Linked DNA regions of Homo sapiens: region 2 is linked to region 1. Evidence: fine-mapped expression QTL. Tissue or cell type: tibial nerve. Region 1 holds a variant in brackets; the other region holds the start of a gene. All regions are shown on one strand. Distances are between the middles of the regions.

Region 1 (4,386 bases):
TGGGAAATGTTGTAAAGATCTACACAAATGCAAGCTATTTGTCCCAGGCTTCTGGGTCCCACTTAGGTCCCGGAGGGTGGCAGAAGGAACATACTGTTCTTTTACTGCCTGGGGCTGTGAGCAGGAGGCCTGGCTTTCATACAGCCCCTCTCCTGTTCCTTCTAAACAGAAAAGGGTACATTGGCTAAAGCAGGAGCAGCTTTATGGTGTCTGACCTCTGCAGTGCTCCAGGGCCCCATGCTCAGAGGGCCCTACGCTTGGTTTAATTCTCTGCTGTCATCGTCTTGAAAGTTTTAGTAATTCTTGAGCACATTTTCATTTTGCGCTAAGCCCTGCAAATTCTGTAGCCAGTCCTAGGCCTAAGAGGCCAGGGATCAGGGATGGTGCAGCTCTCTGTCTTCCCGCCTTCTCCCTCTTCAGGAATGGCTCTCCCACCCCACAGACACTGGGACATCAGCCTTGACGCTTCCTTTTTCCCTCACCACGTTCCCTTCATCCCACCTTCCTAACATAGCTGAGATTAGCTTCCTCACATCCCCTCACCATTGCTGTGTTTGCGGCCTCCATCATCTCTTGCCTCCCCACTGAACCCCCTGCCTCCTGTCTTCCTTCTCTTTGAGTGCACTCTGTCTCCAGAAAGACCTTTCAAAATGTGATTCTGATCCATGGCTCCCATGCTTTCAGGATGAAGTGCAGACTTTGTAGCATGGCAACAAAGCCCTCCGTGACCTGGCCTGTGCCTGCCTCTGTGCGCCCTCCCCTTCCTGCCTGCACTCTGGTTACAGTGAGGAACAGCCACGCTGGGCTCTCTTGGGTCTTGCTGCCCTACCCCATGCTGGGCTCTCTTGGGTCTTGTTGCCTATGCATGCTGCTCCTGCCACACAGGATGTCCTCTCGCTTTCTTCTCTGCCTGGCTAACACTTCTTCTTTTGTTCCTCCTCCTTCTTTTTAACTTTATATGTGGAAAAGTTCGACTGTACAACAAACTAGAGAGAACAGCACAATGAACCTCAAGGTACCCATTGCCCAGCTTCAGCGATTCTCTACATATGGCCAATCTTGTTTCATCTGATGCCCACCCATTTTTGTCACAATCTCACATTATTTGAAAGCAAATTCCAGGTGTATCATTTCATGCATACATATTTCAGTGTGTACTCTATTTCTTTTTTAGGGACAGGGTCTCACTCTGTCACCCAGGCTGGAGTGTAGTGGTATGATCATAGCTCACTATAACCTCAAACTCCTGGGCTCAAGTGATCCTCCTGCCTCAGCTTTCCGAGTATCTAGGACTACAGGCATGTGCCACCATGCCTGGCTAACTTTTATTTTTGTAGATCTGGGGTCTTGCTATGTTGCTCAGGCTGGTCTCAAACTCCTGGCCTCAAGCAATCCTCCCGCCTTGGCCTCACTTTTGCTGGGATTACAGGTGTGAGCCACCATGCCTGGCCTCAGTGTGTATCTCTAAAAGACAGAAACTTTTTTTTTTTTGGGGGGTCAGAGCCTCAGTCCTTCACCCAGGCTGGAGTGCAGTGGTACTCACTGCAACCTCCGCCTCCTGGGTTCAAGCAATTTTCCTGCCTCAGCCTCCCAAGTAGCTGGGATTACAGGTGCCCACCACCATGCCCGGCTGATTTTGTATTTTTAGTAGAGACGGGGTTTCACCATGTTGGCCAGGCTGGTCTCAAACTCCTGACCTCAGGTGATCTGCCTGCCTTGGCCTCCCAAAGTGCTGGGATTACAGGCATGAGCCACCACGCCTGGCCCCTTTTCTTCTTTTTTAACCTGACTCTGTGTCAGAAAGCCCATTTGGTCCTGTTATTCCCAGGGACTGTATAAAGCAAGGTGACCCCTTCTCTTCTATGTGAGTGCTCTGTAGGTATTGGGTCCTCTCCCTGAGGCTGCTTTTCTGTGGGCTAGAAAAGTTCATCTGTTAGACTAAGCCTGCCATTCCAGCCTGACTAGAATTTTCTAAATCCTGGTTCTGCTGTTTAAAAGCTCACTGTGACTCTCAGCTTCAGATAATCTGCCAGTGTGGTACATGTGCCTTCTGGATCTTTTTGTCCACTAACCAGGGCAGACTCCAGGGCAGAACTCTCTGGTATCCTACTACAGGCCTCCAGGGAGCCACCAATCAGCATCCACCTGCATCACCTTCCAGTCCACATCTCTCCATCCTGGCCACTAAACTATTGTAAGCAGCCTTTTTCAGTGTCTTCCTAAAGTCTCCAGAAGAGCCCAGGACTTCAAAGAGTAGAAGGAATATATTGGCTTCAATGCCATCTCCACCCGCCACTGGCTCTCTCTCTTTTTTTTTTTTTTTTTTTTTTTTTTTTGAGACCAAGTTTTGTTCTTGTCACCCAGGCAGCTGGGGTGCAATGGCATGATCTTGGCTCACTGCAACCTCAACCTCCGGGGTTCAAGTGATTCTCCTGCCTCAGCCTCCCAAGTAGCTGGGATTACAGGCACCCACCACCACGCCTGGTTAATTTTTGTATTTTTAGCAGAGACAGGGTTTCTCCATGTTGGCCAGGCTGGTCTTGAACTCCTGACCTCAGACGATCC[G/A]CCCGCCTCAGCCTCCCACCCACCATTGACTCTCTGACTGGGGATTACTACCCCAGTAAAATGACATACTTTCCCAGGCCTTGTGAATTGTTCTGGAAAGACATCATGCTACAGGGTCAATACAACTCCTAAATGCAGCTCCCTTTTAGCAGCTGAGGCCCTTGGAGACACCGGTTTTTCCTATGCCAAGGCCACAGAGACCAGAATTCCACTTGCTTGCTGAGGAAGTCAATCATAGTTGAGAAATAGCTGAGGAGTAAGCTGAGTCTTTAAGCTCAAGGACAATTAGGAGGTGGGTCTGGATATTCTACTGGAAGGGAGAAAGAAAAGCCAAGACCTACTGGGAAGACAGGGAGCAAACAAGGATGTCAAGCCATTAAATCAAGGAGGCCAAGTGGCCTCTACACAGTGCAGGACCCAGCGAATATAGAATAGGGGGTGGGAGGCTGGGCGCGGTGGCTCACGCCTGTAATCTCAGCACTTTGGGAAGCCAAGGCAGGAGGCTTGCTTGAGCCCAGGAGTTTGAGACCAGCCTGGGCAACATAGTGTGACCCTGTTTCTAAAAATAAAAATAAATAAATAAATAAAAAAGTAAGAAAGAAGAGAAAAAAAGAAAGGAAATGATGAGATCTTGGACCAGGCTGAGCAGTGAACACAGAGGAGTGGAGATGCATTCCATGGACATTTCTAGGGTACAGTTAATAAGATTCAGTGAAGTGGACAATGCCGAGGAGAAGTGGAGGATGACTCCCTGATTTCCAGTTTGGTTGCCTGGTTAGAGAGTGATGCTTATAACCATGGCGGGGAATATGGAGCGGGGAGATGAGGGTGGCACTTGAGATGATCAACTGTTTTGGCCATGACAAAATTTAAATGCCTAACAGGTTGGCATTAATAAAGATCTGGGCTGGGCGCAGTGGCTCACACCTGTAATCCCAGCACTTTGGGAGGCTGAGGCGGGCAGATCACGAGGTCAGGAGTTCGAGGCTAGCCTGGCCAGCATAGTGAAACCCCATCTCTACTAAAAATACAAAAATTAGCTGGGCATGGTGGTGCGAGCCTGCAGTCCCAGCTACTCGTGAGGCTGAGGTTGGAGAACTGCTTGACCCCAGGAGGTGGAGGTTGCAGTGAGCTGAGATTGCACCACTGCCCTCCAGCCTGGGCGACAGAGTGAGACTCCATCTCAAAAAAAAAAAAAAAAAAAAAAAAAGATCTGGGGCTCAGAAAGGAGATCTAGGCTTGACAGGTAGGTTTGGGAGTCATTGGTGTATACGTAGCAATGAAAACCACGGGAGTAAATATGGTGACTCTGAAAAGTGAGTTATCAGGAAGAGGAAAGGGACTTACAGAATAGGTCAAGAAAATCACCGCATTATGGCCGGATGCAGTGGCTCATGCCTATAATCCCAGCACTTTGGGAGGCTGAGGCGGGCGGATCACGAGGTCAGGAGATCGAGACCATCCTGGCTAACACAGTGAAACCCCATCTCTACTAAAAATACAAAAAATTAGCCAGGCGTGGTGGTGGGCGCCTGTAGTCCCAGCTGCTCGGGAGGCTGAGGCAGGAGAATGGCGTGAACCCGGGAGGCAGAGCTTGCAGTGAGCTGAGATCATGCCAGTGCACTCCAGCCTGGGCGACAGAGTGAGATTCCATCTCAAAAAAAAAAAGAAAAAGAAAATCACCACATTATTTAATGAAACAAAATCCATGCCCTTTGAGATTGGCAAAACCGTGATGAGATATACTTCACACCTATTGGGTGTCTATAATCAAAAAGACAGACAATAATAAGTGTGGACAAGGATGTGGAGAAATTGGAC
Region 2 (4,386 bases), 26 kb after region 1:
GATGAAACTGAGGCTTAGATTAGGTAACTTGTGACTTACACAGAGACACCATTACTCAAACCAGGTTTTTCTAATACTTAAATCCAAGTTCTTGGCCACACACTCACTATTTTGTTAATGGTGCCAAAGAAGCCACCTTCTAGGGTTCATTCTCACCCAGATTTACAGAGATGACTTCTGCCCAGGCTCAGCATGCACCCCGAACTCCAGCCAGCCATTATGCCAATGTACGTCCCTGGACAGGGTGAGGAAGAGTGAGGGGATCAGAACAGCCTACATCCACAAGGGAAAACCGGACCTAAAGGCATCTCCTTACATCAAGGATGTACACACAAACACACACACCACTTCTATTTCTTGACTCGGGCTCTGTCCGCAGAACCAAGTGTGGACCTGGCAGGGGTGAGAGAGGTGAGGCAGGGGAGGAGACACTTGTCACGGTATTAACTGGCTGAATAAAAAGTCTATGATAGTGAAATTTCCAGGAACAGGAGAATCCTTCACACTCTTGCTTGTGATTAGACTGCTTTGTTTGACTTCAGCCTCAGGAGTACCTTTCTGAGCACTGGAAGCTACCGGACACAAGGCAGTCATGGGCCCAGAGCCTGCGACTGGGAGTGGGGAAGAGCAGAGTCAACGATTTCCAAGGGTGCCAAAGCCTTTGGCTGCATTTCATTTCTTTCTGTATGATTCCTGATAGCTGTGTTGGGGTACCGGGCCCTCACAGTAAGTGCTACCACTTTTTCTGTAAATGTTTTGGTTTTATTTATCATTATCATAGCTGCATCTGGGGCAACCACCTTGTGCATACAGGACAATAAATTCCTGAGCCTCCTGGCTTCCCTCCTTCCTCCCTCCTTCTCCCTCTTCTTGGCAAAGGCTTAAACATAGGTGGTGGGGCGGGGGGGGGCGGTAGGGACAGAGACAGAGTTCCAGCTCCTCTTTGCTTCACCCCCTTCCCTCCTCCTCCCTTCTTTCCCATTGCTACACTAAAGGAGTCAGGGCTGTGTCCACCAATATGCTCTGTGACTAGCAGTCAACACAATTTCATACCCAGCCAGTCATTCCGCAGGCATTTTGGATGATAATGTTCCCATTCTCAGTTCCTCTGTGAGAATGTGCATGTCATTTGAAGCTCTGTGCCTCAGTTTCCATAGAAGTAAAACAAAAAGCAAGAATTGAGACTGATCTTTTTCTTGCAAGAATTCACAAGTAATGGATAATGTACAAGAGATGTGGCTGAATAAGAGAACTAGAACAAAGACTTGAACAATTTTCCTATGCAACACTCTTTCCCATGGACAAAGGTATCCCACAAAGTCATACTTCATCGGAGGCTAGTTTGTCCAAAGAAAACTCACATACCAATGCAATAGTGACAAAAAAAAAATTCCTCCATGCCAACTCAGGAAAACAGAAAGCAAGTTGTGCTTAAGCCCATTGTAGGTGTGGGCAGATGCTTCCAAAACCGTCACCCCTTTTCCCTCCTCTATGACTATCTTCAACCCCCAGCAAAGCGGCCTCGCCAGCTGCTAAAGGGTTAATTACCAAAAAGAGGGCATGCTCCCTCCAGAGGCTCCTCTGGAGAGTGCAAAAACAAAACAAAACCAAAAACCAACTAACCACAACAAAAAACATCTTCCCTGGGAATAAATTTGAAGCTTATCAGGTCTTTAAGCCACATTTCCCAGCCCATAGACTCCTGGTCCCTGTCTCCCTTTGCTTTGGGAAACTCATTTACCCCCAAGCCTCCTGAAATGATCCATGTGCCGTGAGATGCCCATAGGGTTGGGGACTTGAAAATGAGTTATTCTCCCACAAAAAATGGCTTAGCTTTGTCTTTTTGGGTGGCTGACAGGAGACATAAAGTATCACTCTCTCTTTTTACCCCTCCTCACAATAGGATGGAATGAGTGTGGAGAAAAACAAAGGTATTGTGGGACCAGGATGGAGTCAACTTGACAATGGACTCTTCAAGGACACCTTCCAGCTCCCATTCTACTAGTAGCTCTATTTGATTTTGTGGGATGTTGTGTTCCTCCAACATATCCGACTTCTGCTTATAAAACAGAAATTAGGAGTAAGAGATTCGCACCGCTAGTTCAGTGGATAATCATCAGTTCTGAAGCATTAAAATCCTTTGCCAACAAGAACGTTTCTTCTAAGGAAGGAAGCATCCTAATCATGAAGCCAGGGTCTCCAGCCCTCCCCTGTCTCCCTCCTCCCCTCCAGGGCTGTGCTCACTCACATCCATGGACATCTCCCTCTGCATAAGTTTCTTGGTCTCCTTTTCACAGAAGTTGAGCATGGCCTCCCGGTTGTACACACCCGTGGACTGTTTCTCCGTCTGGTTTCTCTGCCGCAGCCCCACGGGAACACTCCCGTCTGGGTCCACCACGTCCAGCTCCTTCTCCAGCTCCTCCATCTCCTCGGGAGACAGGGTCTCCAGCAGGCTGTCGATGTCGGGGTCTTCACTCACCTGCCGGCGATATTTGGCTACTCTAGACATCTTGGCAAAATGGGCTGTGGCTGCCAGGGGCTATCAGAGTCCTGGTGGGCAGGGAAGGGAGAGGGGTGAGCTGATCTGGATGCAGCGAGTGGGCTGAGGAGCAAACCTCCTGCTGGTCGAGGACTGCAGCTCCTTGGCCCTTCTGTGCTACAGGTGCTGAAGTGTTCACTGGACGCAGCAGCCTCCCTGAAGCCCAGGGCTAGTGGACCCCGGCTGGTCTAATCAGCGGCCAATAAGACCCGACAACTGCCAGGCCCGGAGAGGAGAAGCCAATCCCCAAGCTGGGGGCGGGCCTACCTCGCTGTCAGAGCTGTTTGAAACTTGAGGACATTCCAGGGAATCTTGGAGCGCTGCGTGACCAAATTTAGTACAGAGCAGTTTAGCCTTTTAAAGACAAGGGGCCACGCAATGAGAAAAAGATACAAAAATGCGTAGGCTGGCAGAAGCAGATCACAGCCACGGAGAGCCAGACAAGCAGGGACGAGGCCATGAGGGCCGGTGAACTCGCCAGCCCGGGGCACGTTCAAGAGCGTATTTTACTACTCCATCACCGGGTGGACGTATCACTGTGGTCAATGTGTGGTTCATGGACTTCCTTCTACAGTATTTGGTAATGTGCTGGGGGGCTCCCAGGTGTATACAGCTCCAGGAAAGTCTAGATTCAAGATGAGGAGCTGTTACTCCTAACCCCCTGCCTACCCATTTTCTTTCTACCCAGGTTCTGCCAAGGAGGACCTGAAGGCTGAGCATCAGAGGCTCCAGGATCCTTTGGCCACTTCTTAAGAGAGAGACAGGAGACAGAAAGACAAACTTAGAGATAGAGATAGCTAGGCAGGAGAGGGAGAGAGAGAGAGAGAGAGAGAGAGAGAGAGAGAGAGAGAGAGAATAAATCCTTACTGTGTACCAAAACTGAAAACTGGCAGGCTGTTTGGGAAAGAGAGAAGGATCTGCAGAAGTCGGGAAACTCTTAAAGGGCTGTCACTTTCCATGAAGTTCCAAGGCTCTTGGGAAGAGGGTTCAAACCTCCCCCTGTTGTCATCTGTTTCTTCCTCTGCCGGGCATCTGTAGACAGACCTCCTTTGGGAGCACAGAGGCAGGTCACCACCCACATATAAATCCAGAGCACGATTTAGTATGTCTTCAGGGAAACAGAATTCTGGGCCGTCGGGAGAGATACGATTGCAACAGGTCTGGCATGTTTCATAGAAGGGCTTTCCACTGCTCATCCATCATGCTGCCCTGCACAAGTCACAGAGACATTCAATCCCCTGCCCCCCTTCCTCCTGCCACAAAATCCCTTCTAGAAGCCCTGGTGTAACCCATCAGGGTAGATGCTTCGATCTTTCCTGGCATCTTTCCATCCTAAGCCAGAGAGAGACAGTCACTTGATCAGCATTTGCTGAGTCCAGGGATCGTCTGGGACTAAAACTTGGCCGTGCCATTTAATGTCCACTAGTCCAACTTTAGGTTAAGGCTGAAGAGGGGAATGGTGTCCACTGGGGGGACTGAAGGGCAGAAGGAAGGCAGGCAGACTTGATAGGAAGAGTGGAAGAAGACTTTAGGGAAACCTGGGGGTTGTCATTTTAAGAGTCAGTAGCCAACTTATTGGTCAAACCGTAGGTATATATTTATTGAGTGATTTATCAAGTGCCTATTATATATCAGGCATTGTTCTAAGAGCAAGAGATATCACTAAAGATACAAAATCAGGCCAGGTGCAGTGGCTCATGTCTGTAATCCCAGCACTTTGGGAGGCCAAGGCAAGAGGATTGCTTGAGTCCAGGAGTTCAAGAACAGGCTGGGCAACATAATGAGACCCCCATCTCTCCAAAAAAAAAAAAAAAACAAAATTAGCCTGATGTGGTGGTGAGCATCTG

Evidence for each region. PIP is the estimated chance that this variant, and not a neighbour inherited with it, causes the effect. A credible set is the group of variants that fine-mapping cannot tell apart.
Region 2: it holds the start of LMOD1, and the variant in region 1 is the best candidate, but not a certain one, in a credible set for the expression of LMOD1 in tibial nerve (GTEx, PIP 0.63).

The regions. Positions count from the first base shown.
Region 1 is chr1:201,917,738-201,922,123 of GRCh38, forward strand. All of the region lies in intron 1 of LMOD1 (leiomodin 1), which reads right to left. Among named protein-coding and RNA genes, the nearest start is that of LMOD1, 27 kb to the right of the region's middle. The variant G/A (reference allele first, on the strand shown) is at 2,566.
Region 2 is chr1:201,943,832-201,948,217 of GRCh38, forward strand. It overlaps LMOD1 (leiomodin 1), which reads right to left and starts at 2,717. Exons shown (of 3, transcript NM_012134.3): 1 at 2,249-2,717. The coding sequence starts at 2,509.